Regions from separate parts of the Homo sapiens genome. Here regions 2, 3 and 4 are each reported to be linked to region 1. Evidence: microRNA targets listed by miRTarBase, many of them from high-throughput screens and not tested one by one. Region 1 holds a microRNA gene; each other region holds the end of a gene's coding sequence.

Evidence for each region. Region 1 holds the annotated microRNA hsa-miR-3620-3p (UCACCCUGCAUCCCGCACCCAG, at 4,646-4,667, shown strand). A microRNA usually pairs through its seed, bases 2 to 8, with sites in the 3' UTR of a target mRNA and lowers its output. Matches are read on the target gene's strand: a 7mer-m8 pairs with bases 2 to 8, a 7mer-A1 pairs with bases 2 to 7 and ends in A, and an 8mer does both.
Region 2: the mRNA of LRFN1 is a reported target of hsa-miR-3620-3p. Seed matches in the 3' UTR shown: 7mer-A1 at 5,294-5,300.
Region 3: miRTarBase lists ENTHD1 as a target of hsa-miR-3620-3p. The part of its 3' UTR that is shown has no 7-base or 8-base seed match.
Region 4: the mRNA of CLDN7 is a reported target of hsa-miR-3620-3p. Seed matches in the 3' UTR shown: 7mer-m8 at 1,142-1,148.

What each region holds. Positions count from the first base shown.
Region 1 is chr1:228,092,675-228,099,791 of GRCh38, forward strand. It overlaps MIR3620 (microRNA 3620), which reads left to right and starts at 4,589; the gene lies at 4,589-4,667. ARF1 (ARF GTPase 1) reads left to right here. Exons shown (of 5, transcript NM_001658.4): 2 at 4,404-4,588; 3 at 4,668-4,778; 4 at 4,917-5,041; 5 at 5,178-6,538. The coding sequence starts at 4,441. The coding sequence ends at 5,339. RefSeq lists enhancers at 3,536-4,505, 4,506-5,475, 4,562-5,761.
Region 2 is chr19:39,301,425-39,308,541 of GRCh38, forward strand. LRFN1 (leucine rich repeat and fibronectin type III domain containing 1) reads right to left here. Exons shown (of 5, transcript NM_020862.2): 5 at 5,142-7,117. The coding sequence ends at 6,209. Among named protein-coding and RNA genes, the nearest start is that of IFNL1, 8.6 kb to the left of the region's middle. RefSeq lists an enhancer at 6,403-6,904.
Region 3 is chr22:39,737,503-39,744,619 of GRCh38, reverse strand. ENTHD1 (ENTH domain containing 1) reads left to right here. Exons shown (of 7, transcript NM_152512.4): 7 at 337-1,576. The coding sequence ends at 941. Among named protein-coding and RNA genes, the nearest start is that of ENTHD1, 150 kb to the left of the region's middle.
Region 4 is chr17:7,254,314-7,261,430 of GRCh38, reverse strand. It overlaps CLDN7 (claudin 7), which reads left to right. Exons shown (of 4, transcript NM_001307.6): 2 at 446-610; 3 at 705-789; 4 at 895-1,528. The coding sequence ends at 1,057. It overlaps ELP5 (elongator acetyltransferase complex subunit 5), which reads right to left. Exons shown (of 8, transcript NM_203414.3): 4 at 6,628-6,848; 5 at 4,393-4,574; 6 at 2,748-2,843; 7 at 2,505-2,605; 8 at 1,494-1,860. The coding sequence ends at 1,746. Among named protein-coding and RNA genes, the nearest start is that of CLDN7, 4.6 kb to the left of the region's middle. RefSeq lists silencers at 1-4, 185-314 and enhancers at 1-113, 515-564.

The DNA.
Region 1 (7,117 bases):
TTCCGCCTGCGCCTGTTCCCTTCCCTGACTCATGCCAAAGTATCCCTGAGATCTGCAAGGGACCGAGGACAGTACTGGCTGGTGGTCTGGGTACAGGCCACAGAGGCATCTGGACCCCATGTGCATCTGGACCAGTTTGGTTGGATCCATTCATGGACACAAAACGGATGTGAACTCACAGAGCTACATTTTCTCCCTGCCCCTGTTCAGGCACAGTGAGGTGTCGGGGAATGTAGCTGCCAGAGTTGACTGTCCCGTTCTTTGGTGTAATGCCTGAAGGCCACCTTTACCATTGGTCTGTGGTCCTCACTGAAGAAAGAAACATTCTTCCTAAAAGACTTTTTTTCCTCAGAGTTGGAGCCCACAGCGTGGTCAGGAAAGAGAAGTAGCCACTGGTGGCTCCTGGCATCCTCCTGCTGGGCAGCCCCTTCTCAAAGTGTGAGGGGTCCCCTTGTGTACAAGCAGGAAGGCTCTGAGAAAGTCAGGTTTGCTCCTACCACAGGATAATTCCGATGAACCTGAAAAGCGGGTTTTGGCTTGTGTGCAGGGACTCTGGTGGAAGAAAGGGTGACAGCACCTGGCCTGGGCATGACACAAGTTAGGACCCGTACCAAGAGGCCCTGGAATTGAGGGTGGGGGTTGCTGTGGACTCTTTCTCCCTCTTAGGAAACTCTATTGGGTCTCCATCTGTCACAGAAGCAGTAAATGATGTAGGGGCTGCCAGGTATAGGGTCCTGTGGGGATGCTGGAACATGCCGAGGCAGGACGTGCCAGCCACCCTCTGCCCATATGTGCAGCAGGGCCACAGATGTGCTTGTCGGTAGGAGAGACCAAGCTGTCTGTGTGCCGATGTCTTGACACCTGAGACTTCAGGTTCACCCATCCTGGTTCTGCCATTCCATTGCAGGGTGGCTTCCCTCCTTTGGGGACTCTTAACGCTTTGGTCTGTTAAAAAAAAAAAAAAAAATCCGGGCGTGGTGGCTCACTCCTGTAATCCCAGCACTTTGGGAGGCCGAGGTGGGCTGATCATCTGAGGTCAGGGGTTCGAGGCCAGCCCTGACCAACATGGTGAAACCCCGTCTCTACTAAAAATAAAAATAAAAATTAGCTCAGCGTGGTGGCACGCGCCTGTAGTCCCAGCTACTCGGGAAGCTGAGGCAAGAGAATCTCGAACCTGGGAGGCAGAGGTTGCAGTGAGCCGAGATCGCACCTGAGAGGTTGCAGTGAGCTGAGATCAAGCCACTGCACTCCAGCCTGGATGACAGAGTGAGACTCTGTCTCAAAAAAAAAAAAAAAAAAAAAAGCCACCAATGGGGAGGGCCTGGGATTACTGGCATCACAAACCCCACTGCCTGCAGGCTGCATGATCTCCTGGGCATGGTTGGCGGCACTGCCCCGGGCATGAGGAGGCAGCAGGCATGTGTGGATCACGGACAGTGCTGGGGTCGAGGGGGTTGGTGACGGTGTGACACCCCTTCCCCTGAGTGGCTGGGTGTTACTGTCAATTCTCCCAAGTGCTGTGCTTCAGTGGTCGTGGCAGTCTGGTGCTGCCTCTGCCCAACTGGCAGGCGACCCTTATTCCTGAGTCCCTGCTGACTTGGTGTCCTAGGTTTATTCCTCCTAGACTTGTTAACTTGTACAGTTAACAAGCCTTTGACACCACACACCCTCGCCTCAGCTTTCCAACCCCCTAGTAATAACAACATCAGGACTCCCTGAGTATCCTCCACCATATGTTTTCCTGGAGTAACTCATAAAAGGCCCTCTTTTCGTTCCATTTCATGCTTGGGTTTTTCATGCGAACCTGTCATTATTAGTTTTTCCGCATTGCCTAGAGTTGCCCAACCCCATAATAAGAATACGTAGGTGGCGTGCCCCATTCTTGCAGGTGTCCACTTCCTGCTCCAGTCTGAGGGGGTTGGCTAGGCTGCTGCTCTCTCTCCATGTGGGGTTGGCTAGGCTGCTGCTCTCTCTCCACGTTGCTGTGGGCTCGCATCCTCTCCCTGGTTCCCTGGGGGAGCTTCTTAGGGAGGGAGCATGTGAGAGATCTGAGGCCCTGCAGTTTGGGAGTTATTTTCATTCTCCCCTAACACTTGTTGGATACTTTGGCTGGGTATAGAATTAAAGGGTTTCGAAAGCAGTGTTTCAGAGTCTTCCATTCTCTGGGGCATCAGAGGTGTCATTTGCCCCTGTGCATTCTGGAGTCCACCTTGCACCTTTATTGGGTCTCATCTAGGTCCTTGGCTTTGCGCTTCAGCCCTTTGAGGCCGAAGCCCAGATTCCTGGGTCCCCACTCTGGAACAGGGAAAAATTTCACCCCGTAATTTCGTACGTTCTTTCTTTTTAGGGTTTCTGTTGGTTGATATCTTAAGTTACTCCTCATCTTCCTTTTTCATTCTGTTTGTTTTTGTTCTGCCTTCTGAGCACCTTCATTTTGAATTTTCCTTTTCAGCTATTTGTGTATCTATCAGGTTTCTCTCCTTGTCCTTTGTTAAAATAGTATTCTGTCTTCAGTCTCCTGTCTTGGTTGCCTCCTTGCAGATTCCTTTTATATTTGGGTCTCTTATGTTGGTGGCCTTTCAAAGGCAGACAGGCCTGTCTCTTGGTGGGGGGTGGGGGTGGGCGGAGCTCCAGTTGCTTGTGTGTGGATCTGCTGGGGCATATAGAACTCTCAGGAATTATTCTGGAATTTCATGGCTCAAGTGTGTTGTCATGGCTCAGCGCAGGCCTAAGCCCTGCTGCAGCTGCTCCCCTAGACCAAGCTTGTCCAACCCTTAGGCCGCATGTGGCCCAGGATGGCTTTGAACCCGACCCAACACAAATTTCTAATAAAACATTGAGATTTTGGGGGTTTTTGTTTTGGTTTGGTTCACCAGCTGTTGTGTTAGTATATTTTGTGTGTGGTCCAAGACAATTCTTCTTCCATTGTGGCCCAGGGTAGCCAAGATTGGACATTGCTGCCCTAGGCAGTCCCAGCTTCATCCCTTGGGTCCCAGGCGGTCCAGTTTTCTCTGCCTGGTCAATCATCACATCCAAGGTCTTCCTCCCTTTTCTCTCTGCCCTTCAAGGCGTGTGTGTCATTTTGGTGTCTTCATTGGTAGTGGTTGCAGGAGTGGACTGAGAGGGCAGGTATTCAGTCTCTTCTGTGCTCCATGGGTGGTGGTCTTCCTCTGGGCTTAGAAAACCTGGCCGTCCCCAAAAAGGGAACACTACAGTGAAGGTCCTTATAAATTTCAGAACTCATTTAAATTTCAGAATAGGTGACATGTTCAAAACCAAGAGCAAAGTGTCCAAAGGACACTGATCCAGCTTGAAGGGGTTCTGTGGCTCATCTGGGATGATGGCAGTGTTAAATCAGACACGGGCGGCCAGTTCACACCCACTGAAACACACAGGCATGTGTGGGCTCTTGCTGATGTTGAGAAATGGAGAAGAGGCATTTCCTTGCCGTAGCGTGCTGGGGTGACTGGATGAGAGAGTCACCAGCGGACAGTCATGGCTGTGATTCAGCCAAAAGCCACCTGTGTGTGGAACCCCTGGTGGAGGAGGTCTGATGAGGGGTGGGTGTGCTCACAGGCTCCTGGCATGTCCTCTTGAAGGCAGAAGCCTTCCTCACTCGGGGTAAGCCCCGCTTGCGGGTGCAGTGAAGAAGCAGTCATTGTTTCAGAAAGTGACCAGTGTTTTCTAAAGTCCCTGTTCGGGATAAAATCACCTGATTCGTGAAATTGCCCACTGGCCAGTGAGGCCAAAGCCTAACAACTTCAGTGTCCTCACAGAGGCGTCTGGGCAGTGGAGGCCCTTCCTGCTGGAGTCTCCGCAGGGCTCTGATGGTGGGTGCCAGCTGACTTAATTGCTGTCCCCGATATTTGTGTTCTGCTGAGGGAACCCCTACCCTTGCGGTGTGGGGCAGACATGGCGGGCGTGCCCCATCGAGGCTGTGTCCTCATGGGAGTGTGTCCCTGAAGGTGTCCTGCTGAGTCTGGCGTGGCCCTGTGTGCTCTGGTCCTTGTGAGTGTGGGCAGGCACAGTGAGTGGTGCTCTCTGGCCCTGGAAGGTTCTGTGTTGGGGTGTAGAGGAGCCTTGCACGCACCTGGAAGCCAGTCCTCAGGCAGCCAGCCTCCCCTCCTGCATAGGCTGGGATGAGGCAGCCTTTCTGGCCATGCAGCTGTGGGGACAGCTTCCCAAGATGAGGGCAACAGTTTCTCAATTCCTGACTCAGCCATTTTCCCTCAGCCCCCATCCTGAGGTGGATTTGGGGGGCATGGGAGGCAGGGCTCTTTCCCTGTTTCCCTGCAGGCTTCCAGGAGGTGGGGTGAGGCAGTGGTGCATCCCTGGGTGGGTGGGTTCTGAGCAACCACTGCTGGGCAGCACAGAACCAGACATGGAGCACCTTGTCTCTCCAGGTGTCCCTGGCCAGTGTCCTTCCACCTGTCCACAAGCATGGGGAACATCTTCGCCAACCTCTTCAAGGGCCTTTTTGGCAAAAAAGAAATGCGCATCCTCATGGTGGGCCTGGATGCTGCAGGGAAGACCACGATCCTCTACAAGCTTAAGCTGGGTGAGATCGTGACCACCATTCCCACCATAGGTGAGGTGGGGGCCAGCAGGGAGTGGGCTGGGCTGGGCTGGGCCAAGGTACAAGGCCTCACCCTGCATCCCGCACCCAGGCTTCAACGTGGAAACCGTGGAGTACAAGAACATCAGCTTCACTGTGTGGGACGTGGGTGGCCAGGACAAGATCCGGCCCCTGTGGCGCCACTACTTCCAGAACACACAAGGTAAGTGGCTGGGGCCTGGTCCCATGGGCACTCCTGCTTCTAGAGAGGGGGGGCCAGCCCATAGATGGGGCATCGATGCCCATAGATGCGGCAGGGGGGCTGTGTTCCCATGACCATTTGACACTGGCTGCCCGGCAGGCCTGATCTTCGTGGTGGACAGCAATGACAGAGAGCGTGTGAACGAGGCCCGTGAGGAGCTCATGAGGATGCTGGCCGAGGACGAGCTCCGGGATGCTGTCCTCCTGGTGTTCGCCAACAAGCAGGTAGGCGCCCGGGCCAGCCTGGGGAATGTGAGGAGCCAGTGTGGGTTCCGCCTGGTGGTAGGGGTTACTGGAGGCTGGTGGGGCCCCTTTCTCTGTCCTGTGGACAGCCCTTCCCACCAACCCTTCCTTCCCCCAGGACCTCCCCAACGCCATGAATGCGGCCGAGATCACAGACAAGCTGGGGCTGCACTCACTACGCCACAGGAACTGGTACATTCAGGCCACCTGCGCCACCAGCGGCGACGGGCTCTATGAAGGACTGGACTGGCTGTCCAATCAGCTCCGGAACCAGAAGTGAACGCGACCCCCCTCCCTCTCACTCCTCTTGCCCTCTGCTTTACTCTCATGTGGCAAACGTGCGGCTCGTGGTGTGAGTGCCAGAAGCTGCCTCCGTGGTTTGGTCACCGTGTGCATCGCACCGTGCTGTAAATGTGGCAGACGCAGCCTGCGGCCAGGCTTTTTATTTAATGTAAATAGTTTTTGTTTCCAATGAGGCAGTTTCTGGTACTCCTATGCAATATTACTCAGCTTTTTTTATTGTAAAAAGAAAAATCAACTCACTGTTCAGTGCTGAGAGGGGATGTAGGCCCATGGGCACCTGGCCTCCAGGAGTCGCTGTGTTGGGAGAGCCGGCCACGCCCTTGGCTTTAGAGCTGTGTTGAAATCCATTTTGGTGGTTGGTTTTTAACCCAAACTCAGTGCATTTTTTAAAATAGTTAAGAATCCAAGTCGAGAACACTTGAACACACAGAAGGGAGACCCCGCCTAGCATAGATTTGCAGTTACGGCCTGGATGCCAGTCGCCAGCCCAGCTGTTCCCCTCGGGAACATGAGGTGGTGGTGGCGCAGCAGACTGCGATCAATTCTGCATGGTCACAGTAGAGATCCCCGCAACTCGCTTGTCCTTGGGTCACCCTGCATTCCATAGCCATGTGCTTGTCCCTGTGCTCCCACGGTTCCCAGGGGCCAGGCTGGGAGCCCACAGCCACCCCACTATGCCGCAGGCCGCCCTACCCACCTTCAGGCAGCCTATGGGACGCAGGGCCCCATCTGTCCCTCGGTCGCCGTGTGGCCAGAGTGGGTCCGTCGTCCCCAACACTCGTGCTCGCTCAGACACTTTGGCAGGATGTCTGGGGCCTCACCAGCAGGAGCGCGTGCAAGCCGGGCAGGCGGTCCACCTAGACCCACAGCCCCTCGGGAGCACCCCACCTCTGTGTGTGATGTAGCTTTCTCTCCCTCAGCCTGCAAGGGTCCGATTTGCCATCGAAAAAGACAACCTCTACTTTTTTCTTTTGTATTTTGATAAACACTGAAGCTGGAGCTGTTAAATTTATCTTGGGGAAACCTCAGAACTGGTCTATTTGGTGTCGTGGAACCTCTTACTGCTTTCAATACACGATTAGTAATCAACTGTTTTGTATACTTGTTTTCAGTTTTCATTTCGACAAACAAGCACTGTAATTATAGCTATTAGAATAAAATCTCTTAACTATTTCACCGGCTCTCCAGTGCTTCCACACAGGCATGCTGCCCCCAGGAGATGGTGGGTGCATCAGCCAGCTTTACTCTAGGAAGTACAGGTGACTGCCTAGGGCCGCCACCTCAGTCCACACCCTCCCCATGTTCCCTCCTGAGTGTGCAGGCACTTCTCTGTGTCTGTGTGAGAGGCTCTTCCAGCATGGTTGCCCACAGTGACCTTGATCTCGTTTGCAGTCCTGTCGGGCCCAGCCAATGAGACCTGGGCCATACAGGGCAGGGGTCAGCAGGCACCATGGAAGACCTCAGCCTCCGTCCTTCCCTCCATCGGCCTGCTGCTGAACCCCACTTTGTATAGCTGGCTATGGGGCAGGGCCACTGCTAGCATACATAGGGCTTTGTGCCAACCAGGGAATGGTCCCTGCCTGAGTGGGCACAGCCCCCACCTCTCCTCAAGATGCCATGCAGCAGGGGGCTGCCAGTCTGGGGGTACCTGTTTCTGGGATGGGGCCATCAGCAGGTCTAAGGTCTGCCTTCTGTTGGGCAGAGTCCCAAAAGAGAGGGCTGCCCTGGCTAGGTGGCCCAACCTTCATCCCCCTT
Region 2 (7,117 bases), not on the chromosome of region 1:
CGAAAATTAGCCGGGTGTGGTGGTGCGTGCCTGTAACCCCAGCTACTCGGGAGGCTGAGGGGCAGGAGAATCGCTTGAACTCAGGAGGCAGAGGTTGCAGTGAGCCGAGATGGTGCCACTGCACTCCAGCCTGGGTGACAAAGCAAGACTCCGTCTCAAAAAAAAAAAAAAAAAGTTAATTTATGTAAAAAATGTAACAGAGCTTGGCAAAGGCGGAGCCCCATACATGTGTTTGTTGCTGTTACTCTTATTATTTTAACATATTTTTCTTCCTTAATACAAACAGAACTCTTTCCCACTTGTTCCCTTCCTTCCTGCTTAGTTCATTGGTATGAGGATGTGAGACCCAGAGCTATGGCAACCATTTTGTGACCACAAGGCAACAAGTTTAGGGTGTGAAGCTATCATTTTGAGGAAGGTAGAACAAAAGAGTAGAAAACGGGGTCCTTGCTGATATTAATAAGCCATTGCACCAAACCCCAGAATCCCCTAACTCCAGACTTACTCTTAGGTGACATAACTGAATGTCTTTCTTGCTTAAGTCGTGTTAATTGGATTTTTCTGTTTCTTGTGGCCAAATGTATCCCCACAAATTCATCTCTGCATGGCCAGCACTGAACCCAGAGAATGTGGTCAATTAATATTTCATAAAAATTTTAATCATATAGGACATGTCTGAGCCCAGGCATATGAGTCTCTTCAATTATGAATGTTGCAATGGAAGAAAACAAGGTTGCAAATCTCTACTTGGAGATGCCAAGGCTTTATAGAAGAGATTTTGAACTGGATATATTTTAGTTTTGCCTGAGCAGCATCCATTACTCCTGGTAACAGTGCTTCAATTTTCCTTCGGAAATGACCTCCTTTCCTACTCCCTCATTTGGCTGGACACATGACTCCAATTTGATCAATTAGAGCAAGCACTCCATCTCCAGAGCACAGTAACAAGTTTTCCTTGTCCTCTCTCATGGTGGCCTTTGCTTAAGTGGTTCCCTCTGCTTAGGACAGTTCCCACCACTCTCCCACGACCAAGTCTTCACCTGGCTCATTTCCACAATATCACTTCCTCCTCCAAAAATCCTTCTGCATAGTACACCGGGGTTTCTATTGCTTTATTTTTTATTTTATATATATATGTGTGTATATATATATATATATGTGTATATATATATATATATGTGTGTATATATATATATATTTGTGTATATATATATATATATATATTTTTTTTTTTTTTTTTTTTTTTTGAGACAGAGTCTAGTTCTGTCACCCAGGCTGGAGTGCAGTGGTGCGATCTTGGCTCACTGCAACCTCCACCTCCCAGGTTCAAGTGATTCTCGTGCCTCATCCTCCTGAGTAGCTGGGATTACAGGCACCCGCCACCATGCATGGCTAATTTTTGTACTTTTAGTAGAGACAGGATTTTACCATGTTGGCCAGGCTGGTCTCGAACTCCTGACCTCAGGTGATCCACCCGCCTCAGCCTCCCAAAGTGCTGGGATTACAGGCATGAGCCACTGTGTCCAGCCTCTATTGCTTTTATATGCTCAACAAGCTTTCTTATTTTTTTTTCTTTTTTGAGACTAGCATATTACAGCAACAAGCTTTCTTTGTTTTATTTTTTTTTAAGATCTTGCTCTGTCATCCAGGCTGGAGTGCAGTGGCTCAATCATAGCTCACTGCTGCCTCAAACTCCTGGGCTCAAGACCACCTCCTGAGTAACTGGGACTACACGTACACACCACCATGCTTGGCTAATTTTTTATTTTTATTTTTGTAGAGACAGAGTCTCGCCATGTTGCCCAGGCTGGTCTCAAGCTCCTAGCCTCAAGTGATCATCCCACCTTGGCCTCCCAAAGTTCTGGAATTACAGGTATGAGCCACCACACCCAGCCAACAAGATTTCTTATCCTACTTTTTCTGGAGAGTATTTACCTTCAACCACATAAAATTGCCAATACTATACAATGTGTGACCTACAAAAATGGCAAGTTCATGTGGTTCAACCTAATATTTAGCAATCCCTACTTCCCAGGACACACAACCGGGACATAGGACCCACCCACCCCCTACCTGGCCAATCAAAGCATTCCATTCATTCCCTTGGATGCGGCAATCAGTGCAGGGGTTGCTATGTGACCTCGGCCAGGCCGATAAGAGCTCTTCCCTGAGATTTTTCTCTTAGGACTAGAGATTCTGCCATTTTATCTCTGGGCTCTGGAAAGATTGAGTCTGTGTCTGTAAATAAATGACCATTTTCCCCCGCCACATGCAGTTGAAAGGGATGAGTCTGAGCTGAGCCAAGCAGAGAAGAGAGCTGTGTAGGGAGAGTGTCTTGGTGGGGTTGAGTCTGGGTTCCTTTCTCTAAAGCTCTGTTCCTTGTAGCTTTGCAATCACCCCACAACTTTTTCTTTTTTTTTTTATTTTTGAGACGGAGTCTCACTCTGTCACCCAGGCTGGAATGCAGTGATGTAATCTCAAGTGATTCTCCTGCCTCAGCCTTTCAAGTAGCTGAAATCACAGGCACCCACCATGCCCAGCTGATTTTTGTATTTTTAGTAGAGATAGGGTTTCACCATGTTGGCGAGCCTGGTCTCGAACTCCTGACCTCAGGCGATCCTCCCACCTTGGCCTCCCAAAGTGCTGGGATTACGTGTCAGTCACTGCACCCACCCCCAATTCTGTTTTGAAGGTAGGCATACCTCACCCCAAAGCTGGGGTCTCCATAGAAATCAGACCACATACCACCCCTGGTAAAGACCCTTCATTGGCTTCCCATGGCCCCAAAGAATAAAATGTTAACTCTTGACCACACCTCACAAGGTTCTGTAGAACCCACTTGCTTCTCCCACCTACTCTCCTCTCACTCTTCCCACTTCAGTCCAGACACACTGCCTCCAACACATCAAGCACACTACTTCCTAAGGGTCTTTGCACATGCTGTTCCCTTTGCCAGGAATGCTTTTCCCTGCTTTTCTCACAATGCATTTATTTAGCTCTGTCATCACCATCCTTCACCCTCCCACCTAAAGTAGGCCTCAAAGTCATTCTCTATGCCATCATCCTGTTTTCATTCTTGGCACAACATTTATTTGCCACTGGACATGCATTATTTACTCGTTTTTGTTTGCTTGTTTTTTGGGTCTCACTCTGCCACACAGGCTGGAGTGCAGTGGTGCAATCAGGGCTCATTGCAGCCTCAACCTCCTGGACTCATTTAATTGCTTATTTGTTTATTTCTCCTCCCTCTAGAATATAGGCACCACGGAGCAGGGCTTTCTTGTTTTGTTTCATCTATTTTGTTCACTGCGATAGCCCCTACATAGGACCAGTTACATAATACATGCTCAATAATGCTTTATCAAGTGAATTAGAGACAAGATTCCTGATGGTTCTGTGTGCAGGTTGGAGGCAGTCAGCTTTCCAATCATGGCTCTGCTGTTAACTGGCTGTGTGATCTTGGAGATGCTCCTTAACCTCTCTGAGCTTCAGTTTCCTCATCTTGAAAATTGTGTGCACACACTGCATATACCTGTGCAGGCTTTAAATGCAGTCATACTTATTATTGGAGTAACTCCATTTCCTAAGCATTATGTGCCATGCACTGGGTTGCATGCTCTTTATCCGTGCATCAGGGAGGGTTTGGGAGCACTGTGCCTGGCTTGTGAAAAGCCCTCAGTACCTAGGAGTCGTCATGACTGACACAAATGAGGGTGGTTGGGCTCCTGGGTGAGGAAGCCTCCTGGCCTGTGATTCTCTGGTGCCTCTGTCCTAGCAGCCTCCCACCCTGTCTGCCTAGATCCATCCCCCTCCCTCCTGCTCCGTTTCTATTTCTGTCTTTCTCTCCTCCTCCCCTGGCCTCAGGGGGCCCCTGGCTGGCAAGAAGCCTTCCTCCTTCTTCCCCAAGATCAGGAAGGTGTTATCACTGCAGGGCCCCTGCAAGGACTGGGATGTCTGTCCCTCTCCTCTCCCCAACCAGCTTTCCTTCCCCAGCCACAGCCCTCAGCCTCACCTGAGAAACTCCTCTCCCCACACCATCCTCCATGCCCTCCGCCAGGGTCCCTCAGATTCCAGGCAGAGCGACACAAGAGGTCTTGTCCCTGAGCTCACCAGGCTAGCTGTGGATATCCAAGCTCAGCTAAGCTCATGGGGGCCATACCCCAGCTTCCGGACACAGACCCCAGAGGCAGCATAGTGTAGGGGTACAATCAAACTTCCAGCTCCGCTATTTATTCATTGGGGGGATGGAGGGACTACGGCAAGTGACTTCATCTCTCTGTGGTTCAGGTTCTTGTCTGTAAAATGGGACCAAGGATAGATCTACCCTACCCCACTGAGTTGTGAGGTCTCAGAGGGTGGAATGAATATTCAATAACTGCTCAGCAGTACAGTGCTCTAGTTGAGTATTAAAGGAGTTCAGGGAATGTCACCCCAAAATATGGCACCCTGGTATGCTGATTATTTTAAATTAAAGGCACTTAGAGATCCATAGATGCTGGAAGAGGCTTTCCTCCTATGTCTTCTTATCTGCCTAAAGATCAAAAAGAACACAAGTGCCTTCTGTCCTCTCCCTGACATTTCATTATCTTTAACAGGAAAAAAAGACAGAGAAATGTCTACACCTGGACGGACTTTGTCACAAGAAATTATCTGTCTGTCAGTCTCAAATTCCAGAGACATTTACAAGCTAAATTCTATCTCCTGGACCCATTTATTTTCCCCAAAATCATTTATTACCCCTCAAAATTGCCTTCCTTTCCCCATCTCCCCTCCTGTGAAGAAAGGTATATAAGTATATAAACCTCACTGGGTTATTGGGTAATCACTTTCCTGTGATTTTCCTAGTGCATGTTAAATACCCTCCATATTCCTTTTCTCTTGTTAATCTATTGTCAGCCCATTCCAGTGAAATTTCAGAGAGTGAAGGGGAAGCTGTCTTTTCACCCCTATAGTAGAGACTCAGAAGTTGGCCTGCCTGCCTTTTTAAATCCCAGTTTTACCACCTTGGGCCAGTTATTTAACTTTTCTGGGCCAAAATTCCCTCATCTGGAAAACAGGATAATAATACCGATATGTCCTGGTGTTGTGAGAATTAAATGACTTAAGTGCTTGGCACATAGTAAGTAAGTATTCACTAAGCGTTAGCTATTATGATCATTTTATTTTTGTGATTATTCCCCACCTCTAAGTCTCTCAGAGGATAAAAGCCTGTCTGCCAGTCTCCTCCGGCCCCAGTTAGTCATCTTCCCATCTTCCTTCAGTCTCACTTAGAGTCCTTATGCTGCAATCTAGGTCACCCTCCCCCAACACACACACACACACACACACACACACACACACACACACACTACACGCGGACACACATACAGACACACACACAGGTCAGCAGGGCCTCAGACACAGAAAAAAGTTTAATTCTGCTGCGGCGGAGGGTCCCGGCTCCGGTAGGGAGGGGGATTTGGTTTTGGATTTTGTTCGTGTGGGGATTTATTTGGGAGAGTCTGGTCCTTCCAGTGGGACCTGCCCGGGAGAATGAGTAAAGAGAAGAAATCAGGAGAGACAGGGAGACTAGACAAAACCAGGGAGGGCCGAGGGACAAGAGACGACAGGACAGAGAGAAAGGAGAGGCAAATAGGGAAAGACAGGCACTACAGAGAGACGACAAGAGGGCGGGATAGAGACAAACGAGGGAAACAGAGAAAGGGGGACCCCAAGCCAGACCCGACCGGACCAGGAATGTGCGTGGGGTGGGGTGGGAGGCTTTGGAGGCCGCCGCGGGACAGAATAGGATCTAGTCCAGCCAGATACAAGAAATGGGCCCCTCGCCCCGGCCCCGGGTGACGGGCTGGGGGAGGGGGCTCGTGTCTCAGTGCTGCAGTGTCAGGGGGCCCTGCCCCTCCCCGCGCTTCGCTGTGTAAGGCACCGGCTCCAGCGAGGTCCGCGAGCGCGCGAGGGGAGGGGTAGGAGGGGGGTCGAGGAGTCCATAGGGGAAGGGAGGCCGGCAGCCGGTCCCCGAACCCCGCCCTGGGCACGGGGGCGTGGCCTCGAGCCGCAGCCCGAGGCTGCCCCGCCCCCTCCCGGGGACAAGGGCGCGTCTCCACTCTGGTCCAATGTCTTGGCGCTGCGCTTTCTCCCAGTCCCGCCCCAGCGTCCGTGCGGCTGGGCGTTTGGTCTGCGGCACCCAGGCGTCCCGGCGCCCGCCCGCCGCTCACACGGTACTCTCCAGCATCCACTCGGTGCTGGTGAAAGCCAGGCACGCCCTGGCGGAGCCCAGCCCCAGGTCTCCATCCTCCCCGGCCGCGCCCCCTCCAGCCCCGTCCAGGTGCGGCGTGGACCGGTGGCGCTTTGTCCGCCGGGCGCGGCGCGGGTAACTGTGGCTCTGGAATAGTGCCCCGTAGTCCCCGTCGAACGAATAGCGCTGCTGCGGCCTCGGCCGGGCCGCGGCTCCCCCAGGAACTAGAGCTAGAGTAGGGGGCGCCGAGGTTGGTGGCTCCAGGGCGCCGGATCGGCTCCTTCGAGGGCCCACCGCGGCCCGAGACTCCTCCCCGGAAGTTTCCTCGGATGGCAGCAGGCACAGCGAGGTGGCCGAGCCGCCCAGAGAACGTCCAAGGACCACCTCCGGCTCCGCGGATGCCGTCTCGGCCTCCATGGCCTTGGCCTCGACGGCGACGGCGGGGGCAGCCTGGGACTCCACCTCGCGCAGCGCCTCGTAGTGGTCCTGGGCCGGCAGGGCCGGGGCCTGTGCCGCGCCTGTGCCTGCGCCGTTGGTCTGCGAGCACACGTGGCTGACCCGCGGGAGCGACCTGGAGCCCTTGACGCGGCGGCTGTCCCCGTCGCCATACACCTTATAGCGGATCATGAGCAGAACGATGAAGACGAGGACCGAGGCGACGATGACGCCCCCGATGGCGATGATCATGGTGCCGCCCAAGAAATGGGCCCTCAGCGGGCGGCAGGGCGCCGGATCCCCAGCGGTGGTGAACTGTACACAGCCCACCACTCGCGTTGCCGGCAGCGCTGTGGCCCCGTCGTCGTAGACCGCCAGCACGCACAAGTCGTAGGCACGGCCCGCCGCCAGGTCATTCACCAGGAAGGTCTGACTGGTGGACGGGATCAT
Region 3 (7,117 bases), not on the chromosome of region 1:
TAGAATGGGGTTTAATACTTTTCTACTCTCTCTGATTAAGTTTAGTGTAAAAATATGTTGGGCAGGGTTTGAGTCAAGATGAGTCAAGATGAATATTGATAATTCTATTTTAGTTTCATTTCCATGGTATTATTGATATATAATACATCTGTAGATTTTCTTAGTTTCCTGCTTTGGGTTTTTTTAAGCTTATTATGAATAGTTAACATTTAAAATTCTAAGCAGTTTATTTATGTTGAGCCCTTCCAGATAGGCTTTTACATTATAAAATTATTTTAGCTATTACTCTCATTTGTATGTTGCATAAATCTTTTTTCTCTCATTTACACATTTTAGTTTCAACTGCTTCTGAGGGAGCATCTTCCTTTTCTCCTTTATCCATGTCATCTCCTGATTTAGCCTCTCCAGAGAAGTCAGCTCATCTCTTATCACCAATTCTGGCCGGACCTTCCTTCTGGACTCTGTCCCATCAACAGTTGTCTTCTACCTCCTTTAAAGATGAAGATAAGACAGCCAAGCTGCATCACTCCTTTGCTTCTAGGGGCCCAGTGTCTTCTGATGTAGAGGAAAATGATAGCCTCAATCTACTGGGAATTCTTCCAAATAACTCTGATTCTGCTAAAAAGAATATAAGTCACATTTCTAGTAGTCACTGGGGGGAGTTTTCCACCCAAAATGTAGACCAGTTCATCCCTCTGTCCTGTTCTGGTTTTCAGTCAACCAAAGACTTCCCCCAGGAACCTGAAGCAAAGAATTCCATTAGTGTTCTTTTAAGGGAGGTAAAACGTGCGATCGCTAGATTACATGAAGATCTGAGCACAGTGATCCAAGAACTTAATGTCATCAATAACATCTTGATGAGCATGAGTCTGAATAGTTCACAAATAAGCCAGTCTTCCCAGGTCCCCCAGTCTTCTGAGGGGAGCTCAGATCAGATCTAATCATCACAATATCTATTTTTGATAGAACTCGTGTGGTTCCACTTCCCCAAGACTTACGTTAGCATTGTATAAATTCATATTATTATGGCAAAAAAGGGGATGGTTTAATTTTTCCTTGTCAGGTTTATTAGCAAGTATCTTTCAAACTAATACTTTCATTTGGGTGGTTTATTTTTTAAAAGGGAAAGATGTCACCTTTGATAATTTCAGATTTAGATATTAGTTCATTTGAAACAGAAGAGAATTTCATTCTTTCATGCTCTGTACCTCAAATGGGTTAAGCATTAGTGAAAATTGTGGTAAGACCTCAAACTGCAAATGACTATTCAAGAGCTTTTGGATAAGGAGGCAGGAAGAAGCTCTTTATCTTTCAACTGTATGGAGCTTGTTAACAAGCCTCTGAGGTGACCTAGGAGGATTGAGTTTGGGGGTATACATTTCACACATTCTTTTGCAAGTTTTAGGTTCTGCAACCAAGGGCCAGAAATCTTTTCTTTCTTCCAGATGCTAGTGTTAGGAGTTAAATGGAAACAAGAAGGACATGGGGCAAATGTTTTTACTGTCAATGTATATTGCAAGGTGAATTCAAATGCATCCTTTTATTCTACTTCAGAAAATAAATTTGATATTTTTCATCTTCTGTGTATCTTTTTAATTCATTAAGACAGCCTTTCAAATAGAAATGTCTGTTATTTATGGGCAAAACAGTCCGGTTTGGGGATTACAGGCCAGTGATTCCCAACCCTGCTGCACACTGGAATCACCACAGAAGCTTTTCTTTTGTTTTATATTTGTCTGAGAGAATCGTGTAATGGGCTCCATGTGCCCATCACTCAGTTTCAACAATTACCAACTCGAGGCTAAAATAATCCTGATTATTTTGAAGACATACGAAACATTTTAAAAATATACTAATGCCAGGGTCCTGCTCCCAGACAAATTGAAACTGGTTTTCATCATGCAGACTGGATTAAGTGATAAAGGAATTGTCAGTGAAAAGACCTTAAAGCTGGAGGAATTTGGCGTGGTTGAAGAATGGCAAGAAAGCTGGTGTGGCTGGAGTGAAGTGAGCAAAGGGGAGAGTAGACGGAGTTCAAGGTCATGGAGCAAAGATGACAGATGACATAGGTTCTTAAAAACCACTGTTAGAGAGACCTGGTGTGGCAGCTTACATCTGTAATCCCAGCACTTTGGGAGGCCGAGGCAGGTGGATCACGAGGTCAGGAGTTCAAGACCAGCCTGGGCAAGATGGTGAAATCCCGTCTCTACTAAAAATACAAAAAAAAATTAGCCGGGCATGGTGGCGGGCACCTGTAATCCCAGCTACTCGGGAGGCTGAGGCAGAGAATCGCTTGAACTCTGGAGGTGGAGCTTGCAGTGAGCCAAGATTGTGCCACTGCACTCCAGCCACTGGGCAACAGAGTGAGAATCCATCTCAAAAAAAAAAAAAAAATTGTTAGAGATTTTGGCTTCTACTCTGTGAAAATAAAAATTAGGATAGGGGTTTAGGATATAAAATGATATGTGACCTTTGATTCTTTTTTTTTTTTTTTTTTTTTTTTTTTTTTTTGAGATGGAGTCTTGCTTTGTCGCCCAGGCTGGAGTGCAATGGTGCGATCTTGGCTTGCTGCAACCTCTGCCTCCCGGGTTGAAGCAATTCTCCTGCCTCAGCCTCCCGGGTTGAAGCAATTCTCCTGCCTCAGCCTCCCAAGTAGCTGCATTACAGGTGCCCGCCACCACGCCCGGCTAATTTTTGTATTTTTAGTAGTTTCACCATGTTGGGCAGGATGGTCTTGATCCCTTGGCCTCATGATCCACCCGCCTCTGCCTCCCAAAGTGGTAGGATTACAGGTGTGAGCCACTGCGCCCGGCAACTTTGATTCTAAATGATTGCTCTTGCTTTGGCAGGGGAACTGGTACAAGAACATGGGGTGAGGCAGGGAAGCCAATTAGCAGGCTGTGGCAGATATCCAGATGAGAGCTTATGATGGCTCAAAGCAGGGTGGGCATAGTGAGGGTGAGTGAGAAGTTATTAGTTCAGGGATTCACTAATGGATTGGACAAAATATTTATAAGAGAAAGAAGAGTCAATGACAAACTCAAAGTATTGGACCAAGCAACAGAAATTCAAGATGACCTTGCCATCAACTGAGATGAGGAAGGCTATAGGTAAAGAAAATTTAGAGACATTCAATTTTTGATATGTTAATTTCAATTATCTGTTAGATAGCCAAGTAGGCACCTGGATGTGAAAGCCAAGTCTGTGAGGGAGTCTAGATTGGAATGGAGGCAGGCAGTTAGGATTTGGTGGTTATTTAAAACTATGAGATGAAATGAAATGACCAACAGGCTAAGCATGATCATGGAGAGAAGTTGAAGGCCTGAGTCCTAGGCGATTATAACAAAGAGATTAAGGAAAAGTTGAAGAGCCAATGAAGGAAACTGAGAACAAGCCATCACCCAGGTAGAATTAAACAATAGCGCGTTGTGTTTGGAAACCAAGAGTATACAGTTGTACATTGAATATATGCCCTTTACATAGATTCACCAGTTGTTAACATTTTGCCATGTTCACCTTATCTCCCTCTGTTGCTAAACATGTTTATATATGCATTATATCAATAGAGAGACATGTTTTACTGAACTTTGTGAAGGTAAGTTGCAGACATTTTGACACTTCACAACACTTATGGTGAACATACTAATTACATGATCAAGGGTAATTATTATCCAACTTACCTTCCAGTTAATCATTTCTCTCTTCAGCTATGTCTAGTCCATTGTCAAATCATCCCTCAGATTTTAATTAGGTTATTAGATTTTTTATTTCTAGAATTCTACTTGGTTCTTTTAAAATTTGCTACAGTTTTATAAGTCAATGTTTATTGCAGATATTTTCAAGTATATCTTTACTATTAAGAATAGTAACCAAACTAGTATAGAATTCTTACTGGTAAGAATATTAGGCCGGGCACGGTGGTTCATGCCTGTAATCCCAGCACTTTGAAAGGCCGAGGTGGGAGGGTCACTTGAGCCTAGGAGTTCGAGACCAGCCTGGGCAACATAGCTAGACTGTGTCTCTACAAAAAATAGAAAATTTAGCCGGGCATGGTGGCATGTGCCTGTGGTCCCAGCTACTCAGGAGGCTGAGATGGGAGGATTGTTTGGGCCTGAGAGATGGAGGTGGCAGTGAGCTGTGATCGCACCACTGCACTCCAGCCTGGGAGACAGAGTAAAACCCTGTCCAAAAAAAGAAAAATAAAGAATATTAAGTAAACTAGAGAGTATTCTTACCAGCAAACTAGTAATAATCATTTAATATATGTATTTAAGATTAAATAGCTTAAATGTATAGCTGCATCCCACAAAGCCTTTAAAGTTGAAATATAATTCACATACCATAAAATTTACCTTTTTAAGGTATATAATTCAGTGATTTCTACTGTATTCACAAGGTTGCACAGCCATCACCATTATCTAATTCCAGAACATTTAGGTCATCACAAAAAGGTACCTCATCCCCATTAGCAGCTGCTCCCCACACCCCCCTCCTCCAAGCCCCAGCAACCACTCATTTACTGTCTGTTTCCATGAACCTGCTTATTTTGGCTATTTCATACAAATGGAATTATATAATATAGCTTTTTGTGTTTGACTTCGTAGCATACTTTTTTGAGGTTCATTCATGTTTTAGCATGTAGCTTACATTCTTTTTGTGGCTGAGTAATATCCATTGTATGGATATACCACGTTTTGTTTATCCATTCATCAGTTGGTGGACATTTGGGTTGTTTACACTATTTGGCTATTGTGAATAATGGTGCTGTGAACATCTGTGTGAATGTGTTTCACTTCTGTTGGGCATATACCTAGAAGTAGAATTGCTGAGTCATATGGTAATTATGTTTACCTTGCTGAAGAACTGCCAAACTATTTTCCAGAGTGGCTGTACCATTTTACCATGAGTTTTGGTATACAGTATTTTCACTGTCTTTTGGCTCCAAATATATTCTAATTCCTATTATGAAGAAGTAGAGAGGTACATTTCCTAATTTTCATGCATATGGATAAACTAATAACAGCAAAAGTTAGTTTAGATCTTAGTTTTTGTTAATTTGATATCTCTGCTGGTTTGTGCTCATGGTGTTGCATTTCCTTGTGTGCCTGATTATCTTTGACTATGAGCTGGTCATGATACTTGGAAAATTATTTGTATGAATAATACGAGAACCTGCTTTTTATTTCTGCCAAGTGCCTAGTGTACTCCCACATAGGTTAAGTCAATTTAGGTCACGGCTTAAAGTTCTCTAGAATACCTAGGTTAATCCCAGACTTAAATTCCTCATAAGAGTTGGTTTATCTCCAATTCATTCTCACTGCATAGCTATTAGATTTCCCTTTATTGTAAGGAGCATCTCGTGTTAGACTTCCCACCTTTTATGAAGGTGATTTCTGTTCTTTCACCATCAAAATGGAAGTTGGAATTTGTTGGACTCAGCAAATGCCTTTAGGGAAAGGTGGCTTCTGCGATCATTTACCTATCAGGTGCCTGTCTGAGTACCTACTATTGTAAGGCTCGTACCAGGCCCTGAGAATACAAAAGGGAATGCAAATAAACTTCTTTATAAAATAAAATAAGAATTAAATATGAAGACATCTTCCATGGGCTTTCTTCATACATCTGGGAAATCTGCCAGTGGATTCCTAGGGAGTTACTACTGGGATACAGCATCCCCTTTTTGTACTGGCTGTAAAATTTCTTAGCTGTACATTGCTAAGAATGGAGAAGGGAAAAAGCCTCCAGAGATAAGCATTCCTCCCTCCCCATCCCCCTAACCAAAAGTTGCAGCATTGGGTGTCTTGAATACTCAGAGAAACCCCACAAATAACTGAGGCAGCAACAACTATCCCTTTAAGAAACTACCTTACTTACTCTGAGCTCACTACATGCACATGGTAACCTCAGATTTTAACTAGGTTTTAGAGAGCTCATATATTTTAATGCAACCATGCAAACATTTGTTAATTAGTATAATTAACAAGCACTTATTTGAGCCTCTATTTAGCCAATTCCATTAAATGAAGAGAACAAAGTTGGCTTAAATTAAGAGTGGCTGTATTCTGATTGACTTGGTAATTATCTTAGGTTAAAAATACTTCATTAGATGTTATTCTCTTAAGTACTTTGGCACTTGAGGATCCTACTTTATAAGGCGGTTATAAAAATATTTTACAGTTTGCTTACTGTCAAATTACTGGTGTGTTCATTCTTTAAATATGTATTAAGCACCTATGATGAGTAGGCAGTTTGCTAGACACTGAGGACACCATAGTGAGCAGGATGGATGGGTGTGCTTACTGCCTTCGGAGCTAGTTCAGTGGAGACACAGACAGCTAAGTGGGTAGTTACTGTCAATATTTAGGTCCTATAAATTTGAGCACAGCGTGGTGTGGCAGAGCCTGATAAAGCGGGACAACCAGCTCCGATTAGGGCCTCAGGGGATGCTGCGTGGAGGAAATGAAGTCCAAATAGAATCCTGAAGGATAACTAGGAGTCAGTCCAGCAAAATGAGTTAGGGGAGAGAGGGCTTTCTAGGCAGAGAGGACAGCATGTTCAAAAGCTGGGGGCAAGAGAGAACTTGATGAGCTTGAATACAGGATGTACAAAACTAGTGGTGGGTCAGAAATTTGAATCACTGCAGTTTCAGATTTTATGCAGTGACACAGTAGGTGATGGTTAGGTGACCAGTGCAGACTGAATAAAAGAAAAAGACTGAGTGACAAGTAAATGGATCGTATTGAAAAATAGAGTGTCATAGAAATCTGGAGACTGAAGAGCTTCCAAAATCCATTCCAAATGAGTTCATTGTGACAATGGTTTGCCCTGAATATACAAGGAGTCCCTCCTTTTGTGTGCTTTCATTTTAAAGAGAAAGGGAATACTGAGAACAACTGGGTGAATCAGTTACATATTCAATATACTGGGGACTGGTTTTCTAGGTTTTACTTTATTTTTAATAGAGTAGATTCTGAGATGTGATAAAAGGGTTTAGTGTGTAGATTTGAGAGATTTTTATTTCTTGCAGAACACCAAGTAATTTAAGGAGGCCAAGCATATTATTGTTAAGCCAGAAGATATGTGCCACCTTTTATCAGCAGGCAGGCTTAGAAAAGAG
Region 4 (7,117 bases), not on the chromosome of region 1:
CTGGTCAGAGTGGGCCGCCGCCTGCTGCCTCTAATCTTATCGGCCGATTAGCCGAAGCCACAAACCCGGTGGCCTCGATAGCGGGCTCAGAGCAGGGACGCCGGCTGGCATGTGCGCCGCGCGGGGCTTCGGACCACCGTCTCGGCTTCTCTTCGCTGCACCCTTTCACCCTTCCCCCTATCCAGGGCAGTTTCACCGAAACCCCGGCGCCCCGGGCGGATCCTTGAGCGGAGAGGGCGGGGCGGGAGCAGGAAGGCCGCGCTGTCGGGAGGGGCGGGGACCTGCCCGCTTGGCCCAGGTCTTGGACACCTGGGCGCCCCTGGCCCTCGGCAGAACACGGCGCCGGACAGAAGAGGTCCAGCGGTTAGTGGGCGCGGCCGGCGGCACGAAGGCTGGAGCCGCCTGCATTTCCAGCAATGACGGCGCCCTTTCCCCTCGCCCGCAGCGGCCTTGCAGGCCACTCGAGCCCTAATGGTGGTCTCCCTGGTGCTGGGCTTCCTGGCCATGTTTGTGGCCACGATGGGCATGAAGTGCACGCGCTGTGGGGGAGACGACAAAGTGAAGAAGGCCCGTATAGCCATGGGTGGAGGCATAATTTTCATCGTGGCAGGTGAGCCCCCGGGTTCTCCCATCTGGGAGGAGCAAGGCTGGGCAAGGCGCCCATTTGGGGCCTCACTATACTGAAACCCTCATTCTGTCTCCAGGTCTTGCCGCCTTGGTAGCTTGCTCCTGGTATGGCCATCAGATTGTCACAGACTTTTATAACCCTTTGATCCCTACCAACATTAAGTAAGTCTGGGAACCCTGCCTCCTAAGGGGACAGGTCTGGGGTCCTGGAATAGGGAGGAGGGCAGAGGCACGCCAGGGTTTCTAACCACCCCCTTCTCTTCACAGGTATGAGTTTGGCCCTGCCATCTTTATTGGCTGGGCAGGGTCTGCCCTAGTCATCCTGGGAGGTGCACTGCTCTCCTGTTCCTGTCCTGGGAATGAGAGCAAGGCTGGGTACCGTGTACCCCGCTCTTACCCTAAGTCCAACTCTTCCAAGGAGTATGTGTGACCTGGGATCTCCTTGCCCCAGCCTGACAGGCTATGGGAGTGTCTAGATGCCTGAAAGGGCCTGGGGCTGAGCTCAGCCTGTGGGCAGGGTGCCGGACAAAGGCCTCCTGGTCACTCTGTCCCTGCACTCCATGTATAGTCCTCTTGGGTTGGGGGTGGGGGGGTGCCGTTGGTGGGAGAGACAAAAAGAGGGAGAGTGTGCTTTTTGTACAGTAATAAAAAATAAGTATTGGGAAGCAGGCTTTTTTCCCTTCAGGGCCTCTGCTTTCCTCCCGTCCAGATCCTTGCAGGGAGCTTGGAACCTTAGTGCACCTACTTCAGTTCAGAACACTTAGCACCCCACTGACTCCACTGACAATTGACTAAAAGATGCAGGTGCTCGTATCTCGACATTCATTCCCACCCCCCTCTTATTTAAATAGCTACCAAAGTACTTCTTTTTTAATAAAAAAATAAAGATTTTTATTAGGTACGGGGGTGTTCTACTCTCTCACATTACCCCATGTCTTCATCCTACCTTCTGTCCTGATGAGACGCTGCTTCCTGGCTCACAAGGCGGGGCTCCATAGACAAGGGGAACCAAGGTGGGGCAGGGACAGGGTAAGGCTAACACAAACAATAGAAAGATGGTTCTGGGCCCAAAGTCTTCCCGCGCCCCCTCCAATTACAATCTAATCAAATCTGGCCAGTCAAATATCCAGGTCGTCATCTGGGTCTTCTTGGTCCAGGTCATCATAAGCATCTGGCTCATAGAAGATGTGGCTGGTAGCCTGCCCTGGCCTAGGCCGCAGGAGAGCCTGCTGTCTGAGAAGGGAAGATTTGGTGCTGGTGAGGGTAGCTAACAGGTTGGGTCTGGATACTTTCTTCCAGGTGACTGTGACTCTCATTCAGGCAACCTGTTAGGCCTCCATGTCATTTTATTGGTCCAAGTCCCTTTCTCTGACCTCCATGTTAGAGCTGAAGCACCATTTGGTACTGGGATAGATACCCTTGTACTGCTCTCCTAATAAAACCGTAAGTTCCTAGCAGCTTGAGGGCAAGGATCTTGTAGTCTTGCGTCATCCGCCCACATACTGGGCACAGAACAGCAAGCGTGTACTAAGCCCTTGTTAACCAGCCTCTGCCACGCCCATATAGCCTTCTGTCCTCCTAGCACCACTGCCTAGGGATAGGGCCACCTCCCAAGGGTCTGGTCTGGCTCAGCCCAGGCCCAGGGTGCTCTGGGGACAACTGGAGCTGTGACCCAAGGGTATAAGGGAGAGAAAAGAGACATAAAGGTCCTCTGCCATTATAGGGGGAATGGGTGGATCAAGAACTTGGACTTGTCTCTGGAGGTGGACTTCAGTCCCTATAAAGTCAGGTTAATCAATAACCTGTTGCCCCAACCTCTCCATGGCCCAGATGCTGGGATCTACTCAGGGATCCACGTACCCAGGTCCCAACCTTACTTTTCAGAACTGAACTGGAAGGGCAGGATCAGGCTATCTCTGGCTTCTCTCTCTTTCTTGGACAGGTGAAGGTTAAAGGTCAAATGAGTTGTGGGATCCACCTGTAGGTACAAAGGATGCTGCCACTCTGCCCCATCCCTAGAATCCCTGACCCCACCCCCAACCTCTGCAGCTTTTATTTTCTCTCCCGTGACCAGATACTAAACTACATTTCCTTGTTCTGGCCTTGGCATTCTTAGATACCGGGGGTATATGAGGATCGGAGTAGGGCTGGGACTCTACAGAGGGCCCCTCTTGGAGATCCAGGCTGAAGTCCGGAAGGATGGAGAACCACTGAGTCTGGAGAGAAAAAAGAAAAGAGTTTTTTTCATCTTACTGAAGAAACTAGACAGACTCCAGGACCTCACATCCTCAGCCCCCAATCACCTATTTAACTGACTGCTTTCAGCTCCTGCCCTCAACTTTTTTTTTTTTTTTTGAGACAGGGTCTGGCTTTGTTGCCCAGGCTGGAGTACAGTGGCGTGATCTTAGCTCACTGCAACCTCCGCCTCCCAGGTTCAAGTGATTCTCCTGCCTCAGCCTCCCGAGTAGCTGGGATTACAGGCACGTGCTACCACACCCAGCTAATTTTTGTCTTTTTAGTAGAGATGGGGTTTTGCTATATTGGCCAGGCTGGTCTCAAACCACTAACCTCAGGTGATCTGCCCACTTCGGCCTCCCAAAATGCTGGGATTACAGGTGTAAGCCACTGCGCCCAGCCTCTATTTTATTTTCAAAAGTGAAAGCAAGTTGATTAAGGAAGTAAAGGAATAAAAGGATGGCGACTCCTTAGGCAGAGCAGCCCACTTACTCCTTTTTTGAGACGGAGTCTCACTCTGTTGCCCAGGCTGGAGTGTAGTGGCATGATCTCGGCTCACCTCAACCTCCGCCTCCCAGGTTCAAGTGATTCTCCCACCTCAGCCTCCCGAATAGCTGGGACTACAGGCACCCACCACTATGCCCAGCTAATTTTTGTATTTTTAGTAGAGATGAGATTTCACCATGTTAGCCAGGCCGGTCTCGAACTCCTGACCTCACAATCTGCCCACCTCGGCCCCCCAAAGTGCTGGGATTATGGGCCTGAGCCACCTCGCCTGGGCCCCACTTACACTTTATAACCTTGGTAAGTGACTTAAATTTAAACCTCCTTGGGCCGGGTGCAGTGGATCACACCTGTAATCCCAGCACTTTGGGAGACCAAGGCCAGAGGATGGCTTGAGCCTAGTTATTCAAGACCAGCCTGGGCAACAGGGTGAGATCTCATCTGTATAAAAAACTAAAAAGCTGGCTGGATGTGGTGCTACATGCCTGTGCTCCCACCTCCAGCTACACCAGAGGCTGAGGCAGGAGGATCACTTGAACATGGGAGGTCAAAGCTGCCGTAAGTTATGATTGCACCACAGCACTCCAGCCTGGGCAACAGTGAGACCTTGTCCAATAAAAAAAAAAAAAAAAACTCCAAGGGAATAAAACCCTCCCTGGACTGGCTTTCCAGCCTGAAAAATGGTGATAATAAAACAATCTACCTTAACCATAGCTGAGAGGATTAAATGAAGTGAGTGATAGAAAACAGAGAAATACCTAAATCAGCTTTTTTTAAAAAAAGGTCTCACTGAGGGCTGGGCACAGTGGCTCACGTCTGTAATCCTAGCACTTTGGGAGGCTGAGGTGGAAGGATCACTTGAGCCCAGAAGTTTGAGACCACCCTGACCAACACAGTGAAACCCCATCTCTAAAAAAGTTTGTTTTTAAAGTCTCCTTGAAACATCAGCATTTTCATTGTTCTTCCCATCGTGCCACCCCTTTCTCTGTCCCCCGTTTCCAGTCCTTCTCTGTTGGTTCTTCTGACCTGGTCAGTTGGGCGCTGTCGGGGCCTCCGACACAGGATGTGGGCCGAGGCCTGGCCCATGGTACCGCCCAGGGTCACCTCAGTCTGAGCAAGGCTGCTGAGAGCTCCCACAGGGCCTGGTCCATGAAGCTCTTCATGTAGCAAGCCCAGCACACTCACTTTCCCCACTGAGGAGCTGTCACCTAGAGGAGGACAAGAAATGTAGGATAGTAGGGAGCATTCAGGTTGGTGGCCTGGGAGCTAACAGTGAAGAAGAGAGAGCCTCACAATTCCATCACAGTGCTGCCAAAATCCTGACGTCCCTTGGCCAATCTCACTACCGTGCTCTGAGCCTCCTCCAGCCCACACCTTAATCTCCTCTATCATCCCAATGTAAAGCTGATCAAGGCACCGCTCTAACTTCTATTCTTCAGCAGCTCCTGCCTTCAGGATGGAACGAACGCTTCCAGCAGGTGGTGTCCACTTACTTTCCAGCCTCATCTCTTACACACGGAAGTACTTGTAGTTTCTGGAACTTCCCAAGATCTCAGTCAGTGCCTTCAATTCTCTGCCTCCCTTTTTGGGAGCATTTAGAGAGTGTCAGGTACTATGCTAAACGCTTTAACACAATGTTTGAATCCTTACAAAGGTCAGCGTTTTTAGGTCAAACTGTATGAAATCACTGACATTTAACAATTTTTTTTTCTTTTCTTTTTCGAGATGGAGTCTTGCTCTGTCGCCCAGGCTAGAGTGCAGTGGCGCAATCTTGGCTTACTGCAACCCCTGCTACGGGCTCAACAATACTGCCTCAGTCTCCTGAGTAGCTGGGACTACAGGCGCGTGCCACCACGCCTGGCTAATTTTTGTATTTGGTAGAGACGGGGTTTCAGCATCTTGGCCAGGCTGGTCTTGAACTCCTGACCTCGTGATCTACCTGTCTTGGCCTCCCAAAATGCTGGGATTACAGGCATGAGCCTCTGCGCCCGGACTGTTTTTATTTTTTTGAGATGACGTCTTTCTCTGTCACCCAGGCTGCAGTACGGTGGCGTGATCTCAGCTCACTGCAACCTCTGCCTCCTGGGTTCAAGTGATTCTCCTGCCTCAGCCTCCCGAGTAGCTGGGATTACAGGCGTGCACCACCACACCCAGCTAATTTTTTGTATTTTTAGTAGAGACAGGGTTTCACCATGTTGGCCAGGCTGGTCTCCAACTCCAGGTGATCCGCCCGCCTTGGCCTCCCCAAGTGCTGGGATTACAGGCATGAGCCACTGCGCCCAGACAATATTTAACAACTTTTAACCTAAGAAATGGCAATATAGTGGTTCATCCTAATACTTCCCTTGTACCTTCCCCCATATACAGGGGAAAGTGAAGCAATGAGAGATCAAGCACCTTAATACAAAGCTGGGCGTCTGACTCCTAAGTCCATTCGAGTACCCACAGTGCACTTCAAGGCTAGTCTCAGTGCCCCTGCCCGGCCAAATTTGCCTGGATGACCTCTTGCTCTTCAAGAGAGTGCCTTTTTTTTTTTTTGAGATGGAGTCTTGCTCTGTCGCCCAGGCTGGAGTGCAGTGGCCCATCTCAGCTCACTGCAAGCTCCACCTCCCGGGTTCACGCCATTCTCCTGCCTCAGCCTCCCGGGTAGCTGGGACTAGAGGTGCCCGCCACCAAGCCCGGCTAATTTTTTTTTGTATTTTTAGTAGAGACGGGGTTTCACCATGTTAGCCAGGATGGTCTCGATCTCCTGACCTTGTGATCTACCCACCTCGGCCTCCCAAAGTGCTAGGATTACAGGAGTGAGCCACCGCGCCCGGCCAAGAGTGCCCTTCTTTAAGGTGCCCTGTGCATGCCTGTATCATCATGGCCTTTATCAGACCATCTTGTAACTGCCTGTTTACTTATCTCCATCTTTTATGGGACTTCGAGCTCCTGGAAGGCAAGGACCCAGCTACAGTCAGTCTGTATTTTGCCATTATCTAGAATTGTACCTGACACATTGTATATATTTACTATTGATTTGTTAAATGAATGAATGAGTGAAACAAATGAGTAAAAAAATAACTTGGAGAAAAAAAAGCAAATGGTAGATGGCATTAAGGAGAAGTAAAAAAAAAAAAAAACAGACAAAAAAGTCAAAAAAATGAAAAAAGGTCTGACTGGAGAACCCAGATGTTTATTCTAGGGTAGAAAGGAAAAGGGGCACACTCCTTGGCAGAGGGAGATGTATGAGGGGAAACAATGAAGGAGGGGTCTCACCAGGACAAGAGTCCTGATGGCTCACAGCATGCAGGACCTGGCAGAGTGTGGTGCAGGGAAGGCGAAGTAGCAGCCAGCTGAGTGAATCGAGAGCAATGGTGACAGGAACAGGATCTGTCCTCTTGCACATGGCTCTCAAGGCTCCCAGCGGCCCCCCAGGAAAGGCCTCCTCAGTTTTTGACCAGTTGAGAGGGTCTCTGAAGAAGTCATGGTAAACCAGCCTGCAAAGGGAAAATAAGACACAATATAATATTGCCCCTTCCCCCGAGAGGATCACAAAGTTCATCCTCTGATCTTTATGGCTGTTTTCTCAATTTTTATGAATATCCTAAATATTAGTGAAAGATAATTACTGAGAGAGAGCATACAGTGATTGAGAGCACAGACTTTGGTGTCTGACAGCCTGATCTCCAAGCTTGGCTTTGCTACTTGCCCAAGGTCAGCTAACTGATACATTATTTCTAAGAGTTGCCTCATTGGTGAAATGAGA